3 linked regions of the Homo sapiens genome follow. The protein of the gene in region 1 purifies or fractionates together with the protein of each later gene. This does not show direct contact. Each region holds a gene or a part of one and is shown in the gene's direction. Other genes may lie near its edges.

Region 1 (8,362 bases):
CAATAATCAAGCAGTTCAAATCTGCTCACCTTTTCTGTGATAAGTGGCTATCAACAGTATGCTAACAGATTTTTAAACTTATTTTGGAATCATTTTAGATTTATAGAAAAGTCGTGCAGAGAGTCCAGAGTCCCACATACCTTTTTCCCAGCTTCCCTAACATGAGCATCTTACACATCCACAGCATGTCTGTCAAAACCAAGAAAGTAACATTGGTGCAATATATTAACTGCAGGCTTTATTCAGCTTTCACTCGTTTTTCTAATATGTCCTTTTTCTATCCCAGGATCCAATCCAGGACACCGCATTGCTTTTAGTTCTCACACTTCCTTAGTCTCTTCCAGTCTAGCGTTTTCTCAGCCTTGCTTTTCTTGACTTTGACATACTTGAGGAGCAGTGGTCAGGTATTTTGTGGATGTCCATCCTTTGGGGTTTTATTTATGTTTTCTCATGATTTGAGTGGGGTTATGGATTTCGGGGAAAGAAAACCACAGAGGTGAGGTGCCCTTCTTGTCATGTCCTATCAGGGGGACCTAACATGACTCATCCCTGATGAGGTTAACCTGGATCACTTGGCTAAGATAGAGTCCGCTGGGTTTCCTCACCAGAAAGTCGCCATTTTCCCCTTTCTGCATTCTATCTGTGGGAAGCAAGTCAGTCAGTCGAGCCCCTACTCAAAGGGAGGAGAATTAAGCTCCATTTCCTGGAGGGGGATTTTCTACATAGATTACTTAGAATTCTTCTGAGAGACAGACTTGTTTCTTGTCCTCAGATATTTATTTATTCAATCATTTATTTATATCAGTATGTCCTCATATATATTTATTTTATTCTGTGTGTTAGAATCCAGTACTATCGTTGTTTATTTTGTTGTGCGATTGTCTCAGTTTAGGCCATCGGGGGGTTTTCTCAGTTTGGTTCCTGTGTCTCTTCGACATGTGCCTCCCCCACCCTCAGCATTTCCTTATTCTTTGGCACCAACAAGATACCCCAAGCTCATTTTGCATTTTCCCTGACTCAGTTCTGCAATCAGCTTCTTTTCTAAGGAGTCCTGGTTTCTTTTACTGGAGAATAAAATGGTATTAGAAGCAAGTCTGTGTATTGAGAATGCCCATAGCTACTGGAGTGCCACTGTTTCTAGGTAGATGGACAGATTTATATTAATGTCTCCAACTCTAATCCAGTGTCACAGAGTTCAATTCTAGTCTTTCTCTTTTGCTTGTTTTTAACTTCTCTCTCTGACAGTGTGAAATCTGGCTCCCATCATCTGCAATGTTTTTCTTCATTTGCTTAATGCTAGTTTACATGTAGTTTCAGAATTGCTAACTCTTACCCCAGGGAGAAGGGAATTCACCAACTGAAGTACAGTGTTTATGTACAGATTGTTTTGTCTTTAGACTTTAGATATTCAGTCAAAACACTGTTTTCTAAAGTTACCTGGATCCGCATCTCTTTTCCCACGCCTTCAGTGAGGTTATGTTATACGTTTGTAATACAGTTAGGTCTTTTTCTCACAGACTAAATTCTATCCTGGTATTCCCCAACATCCTGGATGATTTTTTTAAAGTTTGCATACAATGAAGTTCCCCCTTTGTGGTGTACGGGTCTACAGATTTTGACAAATTCATGAAGCCATGTTTCTACTACCCCAGTATCATAGAGAACAGTTCCAATGACCTAAAATAAAATAGAATGTGTGTGGTTCCTTTGTAGTCAATTTCTCCTCTAACCCTTGACAATCACTGAACTGTTTTCCATCCCTATAAATTTTGCCTTTTCCATAATGTCGTATATATGGAATTATATATAATACGTATATATAATAGTAATCTTTTGGGTCTGCCTTCTTTTATTTAGCAAAATGCATTTAAGATTCATCCTCATTGTTGCGGGAATCAAATAGCTCATTCCTTTCATTGCTGAGTAGTATTCCATTGTATGGATAGATCATAGTTTTTGAATATATTTGCCTGCTGAAGGTCATCTTTGTTGCTTCCAGTTTTCATTGATTATGAATAAAGCTGCTATAAACATGGGTTAGCTTGTTTTTGTGTGAATGTAAGTTTTTTATTCACTTGAATAAATACATAGGAGTATAATTGTCGGTTTATGTGATAAGTCCATGTTTAATTTTATGAGAAACTGACTAACTGTTTTCCAAAGTGACTGTACCATTTGTATTTCCACCAGTGATAAATTGGAGTTCTTACAGTTCTGTGTCTTCATCATTTGGTTTCATCTAATTGATTTTAGCAATTCTAATTAGTGAGAAGTGATATCTAATTGTGGTTTTATTTACTCTTTCCTGGTGACAATGATATTGATCATCTTTTCATATGCTTGTCATTTGTATATCTTCTTTGAAATGTCTGCTTAAATCATTTGCCCTTTTTTTAATTGGGTTATATGCTTGCTTATAGTTGAATTCTAAGAGTCCTTTATATATTCTGAATACAAGGCTTTCATCTCATCAGACATTGATTTGTAAATATTTCTTCCAATCTGTAGCTAATCTTTTCATTCCCTTAACAGTGTCTTTCAAAGAGCAAAAGTTTTAAATTTTGATCAAATCCAACTAATCAGTTTTTTTTTCTTCCTTTCATGGATTGTGCTTTTGATGTTATATCTAAAATTTCATTGCCAAACCCAAGGTCCTGCAGATTTTTTATATTTAACTTAAAGAATTTCATCGTTTCACACTTTTTACATTTAGGCTTTTGATCCATCTTGAATTAATTTTTGTATGAGATATAAGGTATGTATTCTTCAATATGCCTTATGCCTTGTTTTATTTTTGTTGTTTTCGTTGTTTTGCACATAGACAGTCTTATTTTAGTACCATGTGTTAAATGGAACATCATCTTTCCATTGAATTTAATTTGCATCTTTATAAAAAGCTACTTGACTACATATGTGTAACACTATTTCTAGGCTCTCTATTTTGTTACACTGTCCTATGTGTCTGTTTCCACAAATATCATCCTGTCTTGATTACTACAGCTTTATATTAAGTTCTAAAATCAAGCAATATGAGTCCTTCAATTTTATTATTCTTCTGAATAGTTTTGCCTACTCTAGTCCCTTTGCCTTTTCATATAAGTTTTAGGACCCTCTTATTGATATTTTCTAAACAATTTTTCTGGGAGTTTAAATGGGATTCCACTAAATCTATGTATTAAATCTTAATAATATTGACTCTTCAAATTCATGAATATGGTGTGTCTTTTTCATTTACTCAGGTCTTCTTTAATTTTCCGTCTGTCTTATAGTTGTCAGTATATATATCCTGCACATATTTTGTTAGGTTTAAATTTAAGTACTTCATTTGCATTTGTGTACTATTGTAAATGGATTTTTTTTTATTTCAAACTCTTATTTTCTATTCCTAGTATATAAGATTGTAAATGGCTTTTGTATATTTACGTCATATCTGAAAACTTGCTAAGCAAGCATTTTTGAAAAAGAAAAAGACAATCCGTCTCTATTTTCTCACTGGTAAGATCCCTATTTCAAAGCATTTTGAAAAAGATGTTTGAGGGAAAAACCTATACATTTTCTCATATTATAGACTGTTCACAAGAAGTCCACTAATGGCTTCTAAAGATAAAAAAGACCCTCAAGCAGCTTGAAATAACGAAAGTTGAAATTGAAACTCTGCTGAAAAATTATGTTTCATCTCTAATATTGAGAAATATTGAAACATTTGATAACACAGTGTGCTATCTTCCTGATACAAGCCCATGTGAAAGGCAATTTGGCAAATATCTAGCAAAATTACAAAATTATACCCTTTGATCCAGCAAGATATTCTTGTAAAGTTACAAATGACATATGTACAAAATTACTGGTTGTAATATGTTTACAATAGAAGAATAAAATAAGTGTGCATCAATATGAAATTGGCTAAGTATGCTATGTTGTATCTGTATAATGCAATACTATATGAACTTCAAAATAGATTTCAACAAAACCTTTGCATTATTGGCAGATGGAATTTAAGAAAATATAACGATTAGTTAGGTGCAGCCAACAATAAACTTCTACTTAGATCTACATATTCTAATGAGAATTCATTTCAAATGTGTCACTAAATCTGAACATTGAAATAAATAGACCTTGAAAACAGCCCTTTAGTTATTGATTCACAAAGTGTTAAGCCAAATTTTTCAAAAATAATAAAATCATGTTATTACAAAAATATTTTATTAATAATAATTTGACTATAGCAAATGTGCTGTTAATAAATTTTTAATGTTAATTTCACCTCTATGTCATTAATTTTCAAATTTTAGTTTTATGTATGTTGATAATTTATGTAGCATATTAGTACTGAGGTACAGAAGTATGATTTATAACTCAATGTACATCTAAAGAGGATACATGCTTAACTTTCTTTATTAATGGAATTTGTGATAAAGTTTGCAGACGCCTCAGAGAAGAGCTCTCACTTGGACAGGAGGCCCTGGCCAAGTTGTGTAATGAGGAGGGTTGTTGAGGGGAAAAGACAAAAAACAAGAGGTATTAAGCCCCAGAAGACAGTTATCACCTGCCTCAGAACACAAGCATGCAGGATGATACAGCTTTTAGTGCCAAGAAGTAGAATTCTAGCATCTCTAGGTGGTGAGAAACAAAGGATTAAGAATTTTTCTTTCTCTAACACTCTAAAGAAATGTTCTTGAGCTAGGAAAGGATTACTCGCGCCTCGTTAGAATCAGACATGGCTTCAGGGGATGCAGGACGCTCCCCTGAGCTGCCTGTCACCGACTAAGTGGAGCAGTGTTTCTTCCGCAGACTCAACTGAGAAGTCAGCCTCTGGGGCAGGCACCAGGAATCTGCCTTTTCAGTAAGACCTAAATTACTCTTATGAGAACCAGCAATGGCAGGTTCTTGAAGGATGTAGAACATGATGCTTGGGGTTATCATTGCTGCGGGTTTTCTTTGGACTTGTTTGAGATCAGTAAAATTCTAAGGCAGGGGATGGAAACCAACTCTATTTGTAAGCTCTGTATCTTTTTTTCTTTTTTCTTTTCTTTTTTTTTTTTTTTTTTAGACAGGGTCTCTCACTCTGCTGCCCAGGCTGGAGTGCAGTGTCACAATCATGGCTCACTATGGCCTCAAACTCCCAGCCTCAAGTGATCCTCCCACCTCAGCCTCCCCAGTAGCTGGGACCACAGGCACACACCACCATGCCTGGCTAATTTTTGTATATTTTGTAGAGGCAGGGTCTACCTTTGCTGCCCAGGCTAGTCTCAAACTCCTGGCTTCAAGCAATCTGCTCACCTCAGCCTCCCAAAGTGCTTGGATTACAGGTATCACCCACCATGCCTGGCCTTAGCTCTGCATCTTAAACCTCGTTTGTCTGTCCCTCACAGCTTAACACAGTGCTGTACACAGCGGACTGGCATGCTCTCTCTGAAAAGGGCCAGATAATAATATGTTAGGCTTTGTGGTCTATACGGCCTCAAACACAATTACTGAACTCTGCCACTGTAGTTGGAAATCAGCCACCAATGATATATTACCAAATGGGTGTAGCTATGTTTCAATAAAACTTTACATACAAAAGCGGGCCTGGTTTGCCCACGCTTGCTATTCACGTTTGTAATGTACATGCCCCTCATGCAATGCAGTTCCTTACCTTATTGCTTAGTCACCTTAAAGCCCTGCTTGTTACTTGGTGCGGTGGCCTTGCTGATGACTACTTATCCCTGTTTTGGGCCTAGCCTTTCAATGCAGGAATCCAGCCCCAGGGAGAGAAACTAATGACTGGAGAAGTTTCTAGGCAAGTGCAGAAAATGACACGGGATGAACATATGTAAGAACATCAAGTTCAGGATCCCGAGTAGTTGTCAGAAATTTCACTTCACCCCATCCCAGCAAGGCTGTTGTATTTGGGGAAGACATTATTTCAAGAGGGGAAGAGATTGTGGAAAATCAGTAGGCAGCAGGAGACAGCTCTCTTGATCCTACTCCCATTTCAGATGATTCCGCAGGGGTCTCTTTATTGCCCCTCTGCTCCCCCAGGTGCTTTCCTCCTTTCATGAGGCTTTGTCCTCCATCCCTCTTGCTCCCCAGTCAGGTGCCAGACTTTTAGGAGGCCCCCCGGAGCACTGGTGGTGAAGCTTAGCAAAGCAATGCATTTGCAATCTAAGATAAAACACTCATGTTTTGGGCTGGGCATGGTGGCTCACACCTGTTATCCCAGCACTTTGGGAGGCCGAGGTGGGCAGATCACAAGGTCAGGAGTTTGAAATGAGCCTGACCAACAGTGTGAAACCTCATCTATACTAGAAACACAAAAATTAGCCAGGTGTGGTGGTGGGCGCCTGTAATCCCAGCTACTCAGGAGGCTGAGGCAGGAGAATCGCTTGAACCTGGGAGGCAGAGTTTGGAGTGAGCCCAGATGGCGCCACTGCACTCCAGCCTGGACAACAGAGTGAGATTCCATCTCAAAAAATAAATAAATAAATAAAAGCACTGATACTTTGGAAGCAAAGCTCCCACATTTGGAACTGAATCAAGAAAAGAAAATGAAAGAGTAGGTGCTTAATCTTCACTCTTCGATAAACCCCCAAACAATAACCCTTAAAGTTTTCCATACAGGCCCACGTGTCTTTCATCTGTGGCTGAAATGGGCTGTCTGTTTCTACACATCCAGTTGATCCTTGAACAAATGTAGGGGTCACGGGCACCGACGCCTGCTCAGTTGAAAATCTGCATGTAACTTTTGACTCCCCAGAAACTTAACGACTCCATAGCCTACTGCTGACTGGAAGCCTTACTGATAACATAAATAGCCAATAAACACATATTTTTTATGTTCTATGTCTTCTGTACTGGATTCTTACAATAAAGTAAGCTAGAGAAATGAAATGTTATTCAGAAAAGAATAAGGAAGAGAAGATACATTTACTATTTGTTAAGTGGAAGTGGATCATCATAAAGGGCTTCATCCTGGTTGTCTTCACACTGAGCAGGCTGAGGTGGAGGAGGAAGAGGAGGGGTTGGTCTTGCTGTCTCGGGGTGGCAGAGGCAGAAGAAAATTCACGGATAAATGGACCCACGCAGTTCAAACCCATGTTGTTCAAGGGTCAGCAGTATAGGGAATGTTTCACCCCTGTATTCTATTTTTCATTCATAGAATTAAAATAGAAATCCTAAAAATGCCCCCTGTGGTTTTCACCTGGATGTGTATTAAGGAGGGTTAATTTTTTTGCTTGCTTAACCCTGAGAACACAGCATTGACTTGAAAGTTACTGTATGGAAAAGCATTAAGGAAACAGCCTTCAGTTGCCTTCCTTCCCTGGACCGTAGAGTGGCCGGTTTTCCCTGATGGTGGCACTGAATGACCAAAGTGACAGGCAGCATCTAGGCAGGGCTGTGCACAGTCACCACCGCTGGATTTCAAAGTTCCTGAACCAAGATCGTCTGACCTGTTCTCCGGCTCTTTGGCAGGTTCTGTCTCCGGCAGGCTTTGAGGATGAAGGCTGCGGGCATTCTGACCCTCATTGGCTGCCTGGTCACAGGCGCCGAGTCCAAAATCTACACTCGTTGCAAACTGGCAAAAATATTCTCGAGGGCTGGCCTGGACAATTACTGGGGCTTCAGCCTTGGAAACTGTGAGACTCTTTCTTTCCTGCTCTCCTTCTGTCCTTGACCTTTCCCCTGAGATGTTGAAGGTCCTGGCCACACTCCCTGCTGTGTCTTCCCAACTACCCCTGCTCTGCCCTCACCGCACTCAGGGGTGGCTGCTAGCCTAACTGTGGCTCTCTGGGTCTCCTCTCCTTCCTCCCCTGCCCCTCATTTCCTTATTCCTGGAGTCCTGTCCTTATGACACTAGCCAGGGAAGGGGAAAATAATGCCACCTCTGCTGGCATTGTGGGGAGTGGGGGGACCTGACTGTTGGTCTAGATTAGGCTCAGCCCCTGACTGGGTGTACAGCTTCAGGTGTGCCATCCCAGCCCCCGATGTGCCCCTCGTGTGCCCCCTGGGCGCATGCCCGCCCTGCCCTGCCCAAGGTGTATTGGGAGGAAGCAGTCAGGTAACAAGGATAAGGAAACTCGCCCTCAGACCAAGCTTAGAGCAAAAGATGCACTTCCTTTGCTGGCGTTTCTGGCTTTCCCCCCTCCAGGGATCTGCATGGCATATTATGAGAGCGGCTACAACACCACAGCCCAGACGGTCCTGGATGACGGCAGCATCGACTATGGCATCTTCCAGATCAACAGCTTCGCGTGGTGCAGACGCGGAAAGCTGAAGGAGAACAACCACTGCCATGTCGCCTGCTCAGGTGAGGCTCTGACTTTCCAGTGATGCCATCCTCAGGACTAGGCGAGAAAGCCGACAATGGGATCACCAACCA
Region 2 (8,025 bases), on another chromosome or scaffold:
TTGTCTTTCTTTTCGGAGAGTAGCTGTTAGTTTCACACTTGCTTAGTGGGTCTGTGGCTGCAGGCGGGACTGTGGTTCTCCAGCCCTGGCCCACAGATGTGCCTGGAGATAATTGACTCTCCAACTTATTACTTCCTGCTGTTAAGGTGGTGGTTTCTGTAACTGTTTAGAAACTTTAAAGATATTTCAGAGAAGAATGGGAGACAGGTACAGTTGAGTACGGGGTGGGGGCACAGTTGAGTATGGGGTGGGGGCACAGTTGAGTACGGGGTGGGGGAACAGTTGAGTATGGGGTGGGGGCACAGTTGAGTACGGGGTGGGGGCACAGTTGAGTACGGGGTGGGGGCACAGTTGAGTACGGGGTGGGGGCGCGGTTGAGTATGGGGTGGGGGCGCAGTGCTGAACAGGGCACAGGAGGAGGAAGCGAACAGGGACCCTTTGGCTCCCAGAACATGACCAGCTGGGGCTTTTCCCTGTAGACAGGAGGATGGATGTGTCTTTGGGGAATCTGAGTAGCCCAAGAGAAAAGACCTAAAATTAATGACATCAGGAGGTCCCCAGTCAGCAGACCCAGCTGGATCCCTTGCTAACGAAGCCCGTCATTAATAACCCCCTCCCAGTGTTCAAGGCATCAAGCTTTAAAAATCCCCATCCCTTAAATATGAGCAGATAACCAAGGGCATCTGAAGAAAACCTCTGCTACAGGAGATTGAGACCAGAATACACACTGGGAAACCAGAGAGCGTGCAGGAAGGAGCCTTAGAAAGCAGGCTGTCATTAATGTCCACGCGGAGGTGAGCGAAAATATCGCGAACATGAGGCAAGAACAGGAAGCTCTAAAAAAAAGCCACCAAAAGGAGTATTCGAATATCCAAAAAGAGAACTCTCGGATGTAAAAAAAAAAAATAAAAGCAGAAATAAGAAAATCAGTTAGTGGGTGAAAGATAAAGTTGAGGAACTCCCTCAGAAAGTAGAACAGAAAAGCAACGAGGTGGCAAATGAGAGAAAAAAGAAACGGAAAGGATCAGATCAGGAAGTCAGCAGCTGAATAGTAAGAGCTTCAAAGCTGAGGTGAGAGGATCGTTTGAGGCCAGGAGTTCAAGACCAGCCTGGGCAACATAGCAAGACCCCCATCTCTACAACAAAATTTAAAAATTAGCCAGGTGTGGTGGTGTGCACCTGTAGTCCCAGCTACTTGGGAGGCTGAGGTGGGAGGATCACTTGAGCCCAGGAGTTTGAGGCTGCAGTGAGCTGTGATCATGCCACTGCCATCCAGCCTGGGTGACAGAGCAAGACCCCATCTCTAAAAAATAAAATAAAATACATTTTAAAAAGTTTCCAGAAGAAAAAAATAGGGAAAACAGGATGAAATTCACAAAATAATTTCCTAGAACCCAAACTTTCTGGGTTAAAGAGGCTCACCCAGTGGCCAGTACCACGGGTGAAAATGCAGGTATCCTTCACTTTCATAGCCTCTTCACTTCTCAGCTTGGATATTAAAAGCTTGGGAAGGCTGGGTGTGGTGGCTCATGCCTGTAATCCCAGCAATTTAGGAGGTAGGTGAATCACTGAGGTCAGGAGTTCGAGACCAGCCTGGCCATCATGATGAAACCCCATCTCTACTAAAAATACAAAAATTAGCCAAGCATGGTGGTGGGTGCCTGTAATCCCATACTCAGGAGGCTGAGGCAGGAGAATTGCTTGAACCCAGGAGGCGGGGGTTGCTGTGAGCCCAGATCGTGCCACTGCACTCCAGCCTGGGCAATAGAATGAGACTCCGTCTCAAAAATAAAATTTAAAAAATTAAAAGTCTGGGCAGCAAACTTGGATAGTGAGAGAGGCTGAGTTTCAGATAAAGACTAGTGAGAGCTTGGGAGGGGAAGGATTTATTTGAAAGCATGTCTGCAGCTGTTGACCCCAGAATTTGGATAGTGAGAGTTCAGAGGCCAGGCGCTGTGGCTCACGCCTGTAATCCCAGCACTTTGGGTGGCCGAGGTGGACGGATCACTTGAGGCCAGGAGTTTGAGACCAGCCTGGCCAACATAGTGAAACCCTGGCTAATACAAAAATTAGCCAGGTATGGTGGCAGGTGCCTGTAATCCCAGCTGCCCAGGAGGCTGAGACAGGAGAATTGCTTGAACCTGGGAGGCGGAGGTAACGGTAAGTGGAGATCATGCCATTGCACTCCAGCCCGGGCAACAAGGGTGAGACTCCGTCTCAAAAAAAAAAAAAAAAAAAAAAAAAAAAGATCCTTGCGTACCCTCTCCAGGACATACTGTTGTGAAATCTCAGAACAAGAGGAGAAAGTAAAAACAAATCACAAATAGGTCATCACAGGTCAAGAGGCAGAAGGTTAGAACATGTGGAAAAAGGCAGAAGAACTAACTACAATTAAAATGAAAAGAAGCAGAAGGGCTTGGGCTTTTTCAAAGCAGCACTGGGTGGCAGGAGACGGGAGGGCCTTGCTTGAGAAATTCTGAAGGATGCATTTGCAGCCTGGAAGTCTACACTCAGGCAAGGGAGGGTAGGGTAAAGACAACTTCAGACTTGCTCCCAGATTTGTTCCTCATGCTTTAAGGAGGTGATTGGCAGATGTAGTCTCCCCAGATGAGGCAGTAAGTCTAGACTGAGAGAGACTGGCTGGTGGGAACAGGATTTCCCCCAGGTGAGAGGTGAGAAGAACCTGCTGAAGGGAAATCCCAGCCAGGTGCTGGTGTGAAGAGCAGACATGTCCTGACCCCAGCTGGTCAGAGGCTCCAAGAGGAGATTCTTTGGGAGAAGATGAAATTAGCAGGACACCTGACATGCTGCAGCATCTGGAGAGGAGTTGATACAGTTGGCAGAGTTGGGGCGGGATTAGTGATAAGTACTAAACAAAGCAAATGAAAACACAAGGCTGTTATTAGTTCCAGGGAAAATAAACCATCGTGCGGGAAACGAAAAATAATTATGGTGTACTACAAGGCGCAGCTGTGGATAGCCTCGCCGCAATGATAGTAATTTATGTAAACACTGACTGCTGCTCTAATTGAAATTATGATGCACCTGGGCAGAGAAGGTGTGGGGAGGAGAGCGCTGCATTTTCGCCTGTCGCCTTGGGAAGTCAGTCGCTAATGCCCCAAGCTGAACAACCAAGGTTCACTCTGAAGGCAGACATTAAAAGAATTAGCTAAAAAGAATTATGGAGCGGGTAGGGCGTGGTGGTTCGCACCTGTAATCCCAGCACTTCAGGAGGCCGAGGCAGGAGGATTGCTTGAGTCCAGGAGTTCAAGACCAGCCTGGGCAACATGGCGAAACCCTGTCTCTACTGAAAATACAAAAATTAGCCAGACATGGTGGCCTGTGTCTGTCTCAGCTCCTTGGGAGGCTGAGGTGGGAGGATCACTTCACTTGAGCCCAGGAGGTGGAGATTTTAGTGAGCTGAGATCGAGCCATCACACTCCACTCTAGCCTGGGTGACAGAGCAAGATCCTGTCTCAAAGAAAAAAAAAAAAAAAGAATCATGGAGAAGGGCGGAGGTGAGAAAGGGAAGCAGGGACAGAGACTGTTGAGTTTCTTAATAAACTTCACCTCACGGAATGATTTCACTCTTTCATGGATATGTATGTGTGGCATTGAATTGACCCAAATGGGAACAGTCTCAGATGGGCTTTCTGCTCTGATGGAATGGCGGCCCTCGCCTGCCTCTGTGCACAGGCCCTGTTAACAGGGAGGGTTTCCTTGCTCTGATTTCCTCTTGGTTATTGTCATTGTTCTCTGTATGCTGTCTCGTCGTTGTGGTCATTTATCAGAGATTCTGAGCACTTTTTTTTTTTTTCCTTTCAGGCAGAGTCTCACTCTGTCACTCAGGCTGGAGTGCAGTGATATGATCTCATTGCAGCCTCTGTTTCCTGAGTTCAAGCAATTATGATTACAGGCCTGAGCCGCCACGCCCGGCCGAGCGCTTTCTTTCGTCGTTTTCCAAGGGGGTTTTAAAACATACCGACCAGTAGAGAGAGCAGTATTATACATCATCCTTCACCTGTCCCCAAGTTTCAGAAATTAGGCAATCAGAGTTTGTCTGGTTTTTGTTAGAACATCACCTCTTTCTTGAGCAAGTACTGAGTGCCAGATGCTACTGTAAGCCTTGAGAATACCCGCTGTGAGGCAGGACGAGGACCTCCCTTTTAAGTCAGTGCAGGAAGACAGTGAGTGGATTAACTGGTGTATATGAGCTATTTGAGGCCAGGCATGGTGGCTCACGCCTGTAATCCTGACATTTTGGGAGGCTGAGGCAGGAGGATGGCTTGAGCCCAGCAGTTCAGGGATTCTGCGATTGCACCACTGCACTCCAGCCTGGGTGACACAGTGAGACACTACTCTAAAAATAATAAATAAAAGATTTGAGGTAGGGATGGGATAAATGCTGCTATGAAGAAAACCAGGGTATGGGGAGTGCAGGGTAGAGACTGGGATCTACTTTCTCAGGGTGGTTAGGGAAGGCTTGCTGAGGAGGTGAGCGTCAAGCAGAGATCTGAAGGAAGCGTGGGACTGCCCTGGGATTCCCCAGCTGAGGGATGGTGGTGCAGAGGCCCAGCAGCAGGAGCCTGCTGGGTGCGGTGGATGAACGGCAAGGAGACTGTTGAGGCTGGAGAGGGTCGCCGAGGGGGACTGTGATAGAAGAGGAGATCAGTGGAGTCCTGGTCACGGGCCATCAGAAGGACTCGAGATAGGAAGCCACTGATCCAACTTTTAATAGAATAACCGTGGCTTTGGGGTTGAAAATGGATTGTGTGGGCCTGAGAGCAGAAGCAGGGAGACTGGTTTGGAGCCTGTTGCAATAACGCAGGTGAGAGCTGATGGTGATTGGGGCAGGGTGGGGTGTAGGTAGGGCAGAGGGGACTTGACAAGTTAGAGCCTGGATAACTATTTACTTTTTTAAATTATTTATTTATTTATTTTTAAATTTTGAGATGAGATCTCACTCTGTCATCCAGGCTGGAGGGCTGGAGTACAGTGGTGTGATCATAGTTCACTGCAGCCTCAGCCTCCTGGGCTTAAGAGATCCTCCCACCTCAGCCTCCTGAGTAGCTGGGACTACAGGTGTATACTACCATACCTGGCTAATTTTTAAATTTTTGTACAGATGGCTTCTTGGTATGTTGCGCAAGCTGATCTTGAACTCCTGGTCTCAAAATATTATCCTGCCTTGGCCACCTAAAGTGTTGGGATTACAGGCATCAGCCACTGCACCTGGCTGAGCCTGGATATATTTTGCATGTAAAGCCCCAAGCAGGTTCTTAAACTGATCATAGTGAGATTTATTATCATTTTCTTCTGAAATAATTTCTTTGAGTTAACTTAACTCTTTTTTTTTTTTTTTTTTGAGACGGAGTCTCACTGTTGGCCAGGCTGGAGTGCAGTGGGGCAATCTTGACTCACTGCAACCTCCACCTCCTGGGTTCAAGCAATTGTCTCTGCCTCAGCCTCTCAAGTAGCTGGGATGATAGGTGCCAGCCACCACACCCAGCTACTTTTTGTATTTAGTAGAGACAGGGTTTTGCCATGTTGGCCAGGCTGGTCTCCTGACCTCAGGTGATCCACCCAGCTTGGCTTCCCAAAGTGCTGGGATTACAGGCGTGAGCCACTGTGCCCAGCCACGAATTGATTTAACTCTTAAGTCAGTTGAGTCAAGTGAGTTATCGTTTGGATTCTAGAGTCAAATACCTATGCAACAAATATTTGAGCCTTATGAGGAATACAGAAGGTACATGAGATATGATCCCTGTCTTCTAAGAACTTGAAACCCAGTTTGGGAATATTGGACTGGTATACGTGCGTGGATTTCCTGTCTACCTGGGAAGGGCCAACAGAGGGCTTAGAGACGGGAAGGAAGAGAACAGGGTGAGCTGATAGCCTCTGTGCTCTAGGACCGGCTCTGCAGGGAAGTTACTTTACTTCAAAGGCTAAGTTTGGGCTCAGTTTTCATTCAGGTCTCCTGGGATATAAATCAACATTCCATTCTCATCAATGTGACCGTTAATTACATATTTTTATTTGGATATACTGTCAGATATAGTTAACTGAACACAAATGAAGTAATTGTATAAGCAAATAAACCATAGTCCTGGAGGTACCGCGTGAAAATGTGTCTCACGATGGAGGTTTTAATGTAGTACCACTGTGTGTAAGTTCCAGGCAGCCCAGGACATGCAGAGAGCAAATATTGACACCAGGAACAGAAACTTTCCACATTTTTGTTGACTACAGCGATGGGAACTGCAGTGAATTATTTGCCTTATATAGTGTCTGTAAAGCTGGAAAAGAAGTAGGTAGTTTCTGGTCTTTGTGTCAGTAGCATAAATAAATAAACTTGAAACATTCTTGCGCTTCTTATTGAAGGTCATGTCACTTGATTTAGTGCTCAAGAGCTTGGTTATTTGGACACGAAGAAGCTACTTCCCTCAGCAGTAAAGGAAATAGAAATTTGACTGTCTAGTGAAACCTACCAATTCTGCCTAAACATATACTGTAGAGGCCAGCAGAGCAGAGTGGCAAGGAAGGGGGGCTCTCCAACAACAGCCTGAGTTCTGAGGCCAGCTCTAAACACTGCTAGCTATGTAGACTTGTGCAAGTCTGTAGCTACTTTTCCCAGTTTCATCCCAGTTCATGTGAGGATTAAACAAAGTAATATGTGCAAAGCCCTTAGAACATCACTTTTAACAACATGTTAGCTATTGGTATTGTTATTTTAAAATCAATTTGCAAATAGACAGTTTTTTTTTTTTTGACTTGATAACTGGCTCTTGGTAGAAAGCATGAGTAATAATAAAAATAACACATATTTGTGTAACAAATATTTGAGCCTGATGAAGACAGAGAGATAAGTAAGGCCGGGGCAGATTCTAAAGAAAGTGCTTTACTATTTTATCAACCACTTAGCTGTGTTTTCTCATTTTTGTGCTCTCGGTAGCTCTGGTTAGCAGAAAGGCCTAGTTTGTTCTTCTTTTGTAGATGGACTGAAAGTCAGACATAAAATGACTTGGCCCAGGCCACTCAGCAGAGGCCGGACTTGGTCTCAGTATCCCTTCCCTCTTCCTCCCAGTCCCTCCGTGTCTGTGCGGAACTCTGCACTGGTGTTTTCTTCTGTACTGTGGAAATTGGTGAGAGCTGGGCCATTGCATTCATATTAGAGAGAGAAGTGTTAGCCTCTGGAGATCAGCTTCATAAAACCACAAACATTTTCTTTTTAACTTTAAATCAAATGTATTGAGTATGATTTACATGCAATAAAACGTACCCATTTTAAGTATGCAGTTTGAGGAACGTGGCCAAACATATTCACCTTGTACCTGCCTCTGCAATCAAACAGTAGAGCATTTCCATCGCCCCGAGTTTCTGCGTGCTCCTCTGCAGTCTATGATTTTCATCACGATTTTGGCCTCTTTTAAATGTCATATAAATGGAACCACAGAACATGCAGTCTTTTACGTCTGGCTCCTTTTTCAGTGTGCGACCTGTGGCGTTCACCCATGAATCAGCACTTCACCCTTTTTACACTCACTTGCTGATGTACATTGGGGTTGTTTTCAGGTTTTAGCTTTTTTTTTTTTTTTTTTTTTTTGAGACAGAGTCTCCCTCTGTCGCCCAGGCTGGAGTGCAGTGGCGTGATCTTGGCTCACTGCAACCTCTGCCTCCTGGGTTCAAGTGATTCTCCTGCCTCAGCCTCCCGAGTAGCTGGGATCACAGGCACCCACCACCACACCCAGCTAATTTTTGTATTTTTAGTAGAGATGGGGTTTCACCATGTTGGCCAGGCTGGTCTTGAACTTCTGACCTCAGGTGATCCACCCACCTCGGCCTCCCAAAGTGCTGGGATTACGGGCATGAGCCACCACGCCCGGCCAGTTATCTCATTTTAATTTGCATTTCTTTGATGACTAATGATGATGAGCACTTTCCTATGTGCTTTCTGACTATTTGTATCTCTTCTTTTGTGAAACGTCTGTTCAAATTTTTTGCTTATTTTTTAATTGGGTTTATTTT
Region 3 (8,025 bases), on another chromosome or scaffold:
TCTATGTCCCCAGGAGCCTCTCCTGCCAGAGCTTCTACACACCCTCCACTCTTGTCACACTGACTTACTTAGCACCACATAGTAAATGTTTGGGATGAGCATTTGGAATTAGCCAGATTTGTGCTAATTCCAAAATCCTCCTCCCACTGCATCATTGCTGTGGAACCTTGGATAAGTTACTTAAAAATGGGAATAATAATTGAAGCTATCTTTTGGGCTCTTGGGAGGATTAAGTAAGTTAGTTGCATGTAAAGAGCTTGGTGCCATAGCCGACACATAGGAAACGGCCTACACCAGGGCTTACATCCTTGAAGCATTCAGTATTTTGTACATGGATTTTTTTTTTTTTTTTTTTTTGCCTAGAGTGTTCTCTCCTGCCTCTCACTCCCACCCCAAATGCACTGTCTGACAAATGCCTACTTGTGTTTCAGGATACTGCTCAAATATCATGTCTCTTGAAACCTTCCATACCATTCCCTAGGCAGATTTCTGTACCTGGTTTCATGCTCTCTTAACATGACATACCTTCCTCTATTGTGGAATGTAACAGTATAGCATTTGGGTGATTAATAAAGTATTGTGGTGGTTTGGTTTGAGAGCATAGTACCTTGACTTGGAATCCCACCCTCACCGTTTGCTTGCTTTGTGACCTTCAGCAAATCACTTAGCCCCACTCAGTGCCTCAGGTTTCTCATCTGCAAAATTGTGAGCACTCCATGAGTTATTACATGAGAGGACTTGGTACAGTACCTGGAAAATAGTATGAGTTTGATAAATATGAGCCTATTTTAGTCAATCACTGTGAGTTTGTTTCCATCCTCTCAACTGCATCTCACACACCTTGGTATCCCCTGTGCATAACAGAATACTTTGCTTCCCTTAAATGCTTAATTAATGCTTATTGAAAAAAAGAAGGCATAAATGTTCCCTAGCAAGAAAACTCAGAGAAAAAAAGAAAATAAGAATAAAAACGAAGCAATAAATGAATGAGTATTTTAGGGGCACATGGAATCATGGAGCTCTTCATAGAAAAGTGCTTTTCACTCTTAAGGGAGCATGTTTAACCCCTTTCAACCCTTGACATTTGTTTTTCTTTCATCTTAAAGTCTGACCTAATTAATACCTTTCAATCTTTTCAGGTCAAATCCTTTATGGCCGAGTACTTTGGAATCCAGAACAAAATCTTAATTCTGCTTACAAACTCCAGCTGGAGAAAGTCTATCTTTGTACGGGCAAGGATGGTTATGTGCCTTTCTTTGATCCCACGGGGACAATCTACAATGAAGGGCCCCAGTATGGATGCATTCAGCCAAACAAACACCTAAAACACAGATTCCTGCTGTTGGTATGCTAAGTTCTCACTATTAGTGTTAAAGAGCAGACACTTGAGCAGATTTCCTCAGCTATGACTTCTGCCTAAAGTAGATAGAGCTCACTCTTGATATTTTCTTCTCTATATATGTTTGTGTTGTTGTTTCTTTCAGATCAGCTAAATACTAGTACATAGGTGGTAGTTACGATGAGTAACAAGACAAACTTCCATTGATGTCCTCAGAAAAGGAAACTCTCGGCCAATGTTTCTCAGAGTATGGTTCAGAGACCTGGAGTGTCCCCATACTCTTTCAGGGAGTCTACAGAGTCAAAATTACTTTCAAAATAATATGATGATGACTCTTTTTTTCATACTTATTCCCTCATGAGTTTAGAGAGTTTAAAAAGTTTATCAATAAAATTTCAGATTCCACATTGTAATGAATCTTTAAAAAATAACCACTCACCAAGTTTTGATTTAGTATCAAAAAAGAGGCAGGGCGTGGTGGCTCATGCCTGTAATCCCAACATTTTGGGACACTGAGGTGGGAGAATCACTTAAGCTTAGGAGTTTGAGACAAGCCTGAGAAACATAAGGAGACCCCATATCTACAAAAAAATATTTGAAAATTAGCTGGGCTTGGTGGCATGCACTTGTAGTCACAGCTACTTGGGAGGCTGAGGTGAGAAAATCACTTGAGACTGGGAGGTCAAGGATGCAGTGAGCCAAGATTGCACCACTGCACTCCAGCCTGGGCAACAGAGCAAGACCCTATCTCAAAAAAAAAAAAGAAAAAAAAAAGCCATAATTGTTTGAAAAAGCTATTAACTACATAGCTTTATGAGGCCAGATTTTCTTCATACACTTTAGACAAAACAGCATATCACAACTGATGGAATTCAGAAGCAGTTATGAGAATCCAGTTTTTTCCCTGAGATTACAAAAATGTAAAACATTGCCAGCTCTCTTTATTGAGGAAGGGAATGAATTTAGGTATTTTCACTAAAAAATATCTTACTTAAGTTAACATGTAATGAGTTTCTTATTGTCAGTTTAAAATGAATTAATAAGTAAACACTTAAAATTTTTTCAGGTTTAATTTTTAACCGAGTAAATGTCGATAGATATAAGTCACATAAACAAAAACTCTCTGGGGTCCTTGATTTGTAAGTGTGTAAAGGGTCCTGAGACCAAATAACTTGAGAAGTATTGGGCTAGAATATCCCACTTTTTGCATTTTGAGATCACAAAAGCCACCACATGTCCTTTTGAAAAGGACAGTGGGTTCCCAGAGTTAGTGTATTAGTCTGTTCTCATGTTGCTAATGACATGCCTGTAACTGGGTAATTTATAAAGGAAAGAGGTTTCATTGACTTACAGTTCAGCATGGCTGGGGAGGCCTCTTACAATCATAGCAGAAGGGGAAGCAAATACATCCTTCTTCACATAGGGGCAGCAAGAAGTGCCGAGCAGAGGGGAAAAAGCCTCTTAAAAAACCATCAGAGGTCCGGGCGCGGTGGCTCAAGCCTGTAATCCCAGCACTTTGGGAGGCCGAGGTGGGCGGATCACGAGGTCAGGAGATTGAGACCATCCTAGCTAACACAGTGAAACTCTGTCTTTACTAAAAATACAAAAAAATTAGCCTGGTGTGGTGGCAGGCTCCTGTAGTCCCAGCTACTCCGGAGGCTGAGGCAGGAGAATGGCATGAACCCAGGAGGTGGAGCCAGCAGTGAGCTGAGATCGCGCCACTGCACTCCAGCCTGGGCGACAGAGCAAGACTCCATCTAAAAAAAAAAAAAAAAAAAATCAGATCTCATGAGAACCCACTCACTATCACAAGAACATCATAGAGGTAACTGTCACCGTGATTCAATTACTTCCTATTGGGTCCCTCCCATGACACATGGGGATTATGGGAACTGTAATTCAAGATAAGATTTGGTGGGGACACAGCCAAACCATATCAGGCAGCCACTGACTTATGGAGAGGGCTTCACAGCACATACTCTCTCAACTCAACCTAAAGCCAGGAGTGATGAGTACTTTTCTCCTCCCAGTCACTGCCACCTACCAATATAGTGGAACCATCTTTCTAAATCTTGCATTTCTTTTTTCTGAAATCCTAGGACCGCAATCAGCCAGAGGTAACTGATAAGTACTTCCATGATGTGCCTTTTGAGGCTCACTTTGCCTCTGAGTTGCCTGATTTCCATGTGGTCAGTAACATGCCAGGTGTGGATGGATTTACTCTAAAAGTAGATGCACTCTATAAGGTGAGTTTGGTGAGAAGAACAGAAGCTTAAGACCAAGTCTACTTTAAAGCTTGAAAAAAAAAAAAAAAAGAAGGAGGACTGCAACATCTCTGGATTCTTCAACATTCTGCCATTCTTGCTGGCAGATCTTTTCTTATTGTTAAGCTTATCACCCACCCAAAATTTTCACATGTATCCCCAGTAGACCAAAACAATTATACAATTATTGACTTTGCATATAGTCACTTGTCATTGTGCACATCATGGCTGCATATGACACTCCAGTTTTTCCTAAGTTCTTTTATATTGCATCCCTTTTTGGTTCTATGCTAGCCCAGCTGATTTTCACGGACATATGAAAAACATTTAAAAAATCATAATACAATACAGCAATTTAGAATAGCAAGAATTACTATTTGATAAACACAAATACCTTAAGTCTTAGCAATGAACATGAACTTTCAAGATGAAATTTCACTTTTTTTGTCTCTAAATATTAATCTATGACCCTTCAGAACTATTATCATGCTTCAGAAGTTATTTCGAAACCATGAAGCATTTTAATGGAGGAAGATGAGGGGGAGATAAAATACTTGATGATATAGCCTGATTGAGAAGGTGTTTAGAAAATGTTTGTCACGTATCTGTGTATTATGCACAGAGTATATGTTTAGTGAATATTTTGTTGAATGACTCCATTTTCGCTGAAGTTCACCAATAAATAGTAAATTGGCATAACACATAATTGAAGGTCACTGTAAATAAATGTGGTTTTTAATGCTATTATTTCACTGCTATCAATAAAGACAGACAAATATAAGCATTCACTTAGCTAAAGAGACCATGAAAGATAATTTCTTAGGCTATTCCATGTACACATAGGGAAACAAAAAAGAATCCGAATAGCTGACTCAAGATCATCTTAATTTGGAAATAAAATAGAACCCATATCTGGTTCAGTTCTCTATGTATTAGTAGACACCAACCATTGCTAATGCTTTTCTGGAAATCAGTTATCTATCAAGGCATATAGTGGCAATTATCCTTCCATTTCCTTTCTTCAGAGGTGGTCTGTGGGCAACAACAACATGTTCGGTTTGTCCCCCTGCAGGTGGAAGCAGGACACCAGTGGTATCTCCAGGTCATCTACATCATTGGCCCTGACACCATCTCAGGGCCCCGGGTCCAGCGCTCTCTCACAGCTCCACTCAGACGCAACCGAAGGGACCTGGTAGAGCCCGATGGCCAGCTGATCCTTGATGATTCCCTCATCTATGACAATGAAGGAGACCAAGTCAAGAATGGCACCAATATGAAGTCCCTGAATCTGGAGATGCAAGAGTTGGCGGTAGCTGCGTCCCTGTCACAGACTGGGGCGTCCATTGGCAGTGCCCTGGCTGCAATCATGCTTCTACTTCTGGTGTTTTTGGTGGCTTGTTTTATCAACAGGAAATGCCAGAAACAGAGGAAGAAGAAGCCCGCAGAGGACATTTTGGAAGAATATCCTCTGAATACCAAGGTAGAAGTGCCCAAGAGGCACCCGGACCGGGTGGAGAAGAACGTGAATAGACACTACTGCACTGTGCGGAACGTCAACATCCTGAGTGAGCCTGAGGCGGCTTACACGTTCAAAGGTGCTAAAGTCAAAAGACTGAATCTAGAAGTCAGAGTTCACAACAATTTACAAGATGGAACAGAAGTTTAATGGAGGAGACCTATGTGTATTTTTTTCTAAAATCATTTTTATAAAATGGGGGGAAATACTGGTATTTTTATAATCTCGCAGATAAAAAAGGGAAAACTATAGCTTTGAGTGGCAGACAGCACACATCACATGCATCAACTCACAACTGAGCTACCTCATTCAGCAAAGAACCACTGAGAACCCCAGAGTATTACAGTTATTTCCGTAGATCCCTTTAATAGTGTCAACAACTGTACACAGCTCCTTCTGTAAGGCTGGTCTTAGAAAACAAGTACTTTAGTATCAGGACAGGAGTTGAACAATTAGGTTAGCAGATGGAGATGAGAGGACTGGGTAGAGTACCATGGCAGATCTCAGAGAGAAGAAGTAGGTACGGGCCTTTGGTTCCCTCCCCCAGCCCCAGCTTTCTCCTACAGGGCTTTTCCTGAGTCCCCAGACAGCAGAGTATGAACTGCTGACACCCAGATTCCATTAAAAATTCTGCTAATCGACACAACACATATATTTGCTCATGATTTCACTTGACAGCGTATGCTCCTTGGCCTCTAATTGTACTTTGCTTTTCCAGAGCCCTTTTTACCTGGGGATTTCAGTGTGCTTAAGTAAAATCCTCTGAAAACCACGGGAGCCTCTGCCTCCTCAGCCACAGAGAACTCCCTCCTACAAAGGGGGAGACTGAAACCCGAGTTAAGGAGGGGCCTGGCAGGCGTATCAGAGCACATTAGTGATGCCCTTCACCCCAGGGAGGTGTCTGTTCCCAACTAGTTTATGTGGCACTGAGACATCCATCCCTGACCAAGGATGCTGCGAAACAGGATCAATGTACTACGGCCTTTTAATTCAACATTGCCATAAATGCTTTAAAGAAAACCCACCACACTTTCCTCCTACTCCGGTCTTTGCCCGTTCCTGTAACAGACAATCCCATGTCCTAGGTATGGTTTTTTATTCTGTTAGTGCTTCGGGAAAGTAAGTGATTCATTTGAATAAGGCAAATTAGGAGAAAGCCCAGGTTGGGGTGAAATCAGACTTAACAGATACATGCTGGTTCTCCTTGCTGTGTGTGACACAGCAGACAGAGGCACTATTCCTGGTGCAGTATTTCAGGGATTTCTCTTTGAGGGGTTCTTTTCTGGTAGCTCAGGCAATTATTTTTACCATATCAGCACATGACAAGGCCATGAACACATGGCTCTAAAATAATTTAGTGTTCAAGTATCAGCTTAACTATTTTGTGTAGGCTACACACAGCTTGCTTTTGTTTCTCTTCTGTTTCTGCCTTATTGGCGGAAACATAAGCGTGCATGCCATGTTGTTTTGAATTGGAGGCACAATTTCATTATTCGAGAGTAAAAGACATGTCCTCTTCTGATGCATGGCACACCATAGTCACCAAGCAAATAACAGAGCCTTCACATTGTGTAATATTTGTATGAGAATGACTCAAGCTCTTTGAGAACATTCCAAACTAGTAACATTTCGCTACTAAAAGCTAGAAAGGATGAACTGTGAAAGGTTCTAGGCAGCTCTGTGAGACTCCAAGCTCCTTGAAAGTAGGACCTTTGTGAGCCACGCCTTTCATTCTTCAACAGTGCCTTGCATGTAACAAGCACTCCAGAAATGTTTGTTGAATGAATGAATGGTGTCATGGGTGAATGATGGGGAGTAAATTTAGGAAGGGGAAGTGAGAGAGTATGGTGGCAATATCACAAGGGAGGAGAGAGGAAAACAATTATCTTCTCTACTTGGATTATGAGATAACCTTTTCTTGGAGGAAAGAAACACCGCTTTACAAAGGCATGACTCTGGCGGTGGTCCTAAGGAAGCATGAGCAGAAAATTCATAAAAATGTATCATCAGCAGGAGATGAGACTATGAATTGGCATCCAGAACAGGAGATTTAGAGCAAAATCTAATTTAGCATTCTGAGATGAGTGTCAGGTTTTCAGGAGAGAATGAGTTGGGGTGAGCCCAGAGTCTGAAACTCCTGACTGGTCAGGTGCTACTTAAGACCAGCTTGGGCAATTCAGGGCAGAACTCCTGTATCAGCCTCATGGACACCCAGAATTGGTATCTCATGGCTGGAGAGCTGATCAGCCAGGCACAGAATCTCCAGAACAACCTAGAGAGTGAATGCTAATTTGTAGAGCGAACTTCCATTTGGCCCATTATTTGTAACTGTGTAACTGCTCCAAGTGCCAGAATGCTTACACGTTAAAGCAGCACCTTTCCATTTGCCCACATATTCTTCTTGCACACCCCTTCCATTACTGCTGAATAGGACATTGCATGGGAAGAGTACAGAGGTGGCAGAATGAAGCTAGAGTGGGAAGGACTAAAGACTGAGCCCCAGAGTGCTCCCAGCAACCGCCACGTACAAGGTCTGAAATGACAAGGGCAAGAGTGAGATAGGAAACTGTGTGTGAAAGGAAAGCCCTTGCAGTATTTCTGCCTCCCTTTCTTTCTGCCTTTCACCCCACTAAATGTATGTTATTGAATGCCAGTACTTCTCTAGTGGATGCACACTTGTTAAATAGTGTTAAGAGATGTGGAGATGAGATATACCCCTTTGATGTAGAATTATTCATTTGGTTTGTTTCATACTTCATTATAGGAATCAAGTAATTTGATGACTAATGTGGATTATATTTCAGTCAAAGCTCTGCTTTCAATTTCTCTGATTTGCTCACTAATGCCTTGTGTGTGTTTTACTAACCTTTTATATCTTGCCTTCAAGTGAGAAGGAACAAACAACT

What was found. The genes of interacting proteins can lie anywhere in the genome.
Region 2: the proteins of LYZL1 (region 1) and CHST12 purify together in Homo sapiens (affinity purification with mass spectrometry; 2 studies listed by BioGRID and IntAct, with this or other methods). This does not show direct contact.
Region 3: the proteins of LYZL1 (region 1) and FRAS1 purify together in Homo sapiens (affinity purification with mass spectrometry; 2 studies listed by BioGRID and IntAct, with this or other methods). This does not show direct contact.

What each region holds. Positions count from the first base shown.
Region 1 is NC_000010.11:29,284,388-29,292,749, forward strand, and holds the start of LYZL1 (lysozyme-like protein 1 precursor), read left to right. Parts: upstream 1-4,682; 5' UTR 4,683-4,730; coding exon of another isoform or gene 4,731-4,843; intron 4,844-7,455; coding exon of another isoform or gene 7,456-7,480; coding exon 7,481-7,619; intron 7,620-8,131; coding exon 8,132-8,290; intron 8,291-8,362.
Region 2 is NC_000007.14:2,406,144-2,414,168, forward strand, and holds part of CHST12 (carbohydrate sulfotransferase 12), read left to right. Parts: intron 1-8,025. UniProt on the Homo sapiens protein: Catalyzes the transfer of sulfate to position 4 of the N-acetylgalactosamine (GalNAc) residue of chondroitin and desulfated dermatan sulfate.
Region 3 is NC_000004.12:78,535,856-78,543,880, forward strand, and holds part of FRAS1 (extracellular matrix organizing protein FRAS1 isoform 1 precursor), read left to right. Parts: intron 1-1,139; coding exon 1,140-1,345; intron 1,346-3,438; coding exon 3,439-3,585; intron 3,586-4,675; coding exon 4,676-5,269; 3' UTR 5,270-8,025. UniProt on the Homo sapiens protein: Involved in extracellular matrix organization. Required for the regulation of epidermal-basement membrane adhesion responsible for proper organogenesis during embryonic development. Involved in brain organization and function.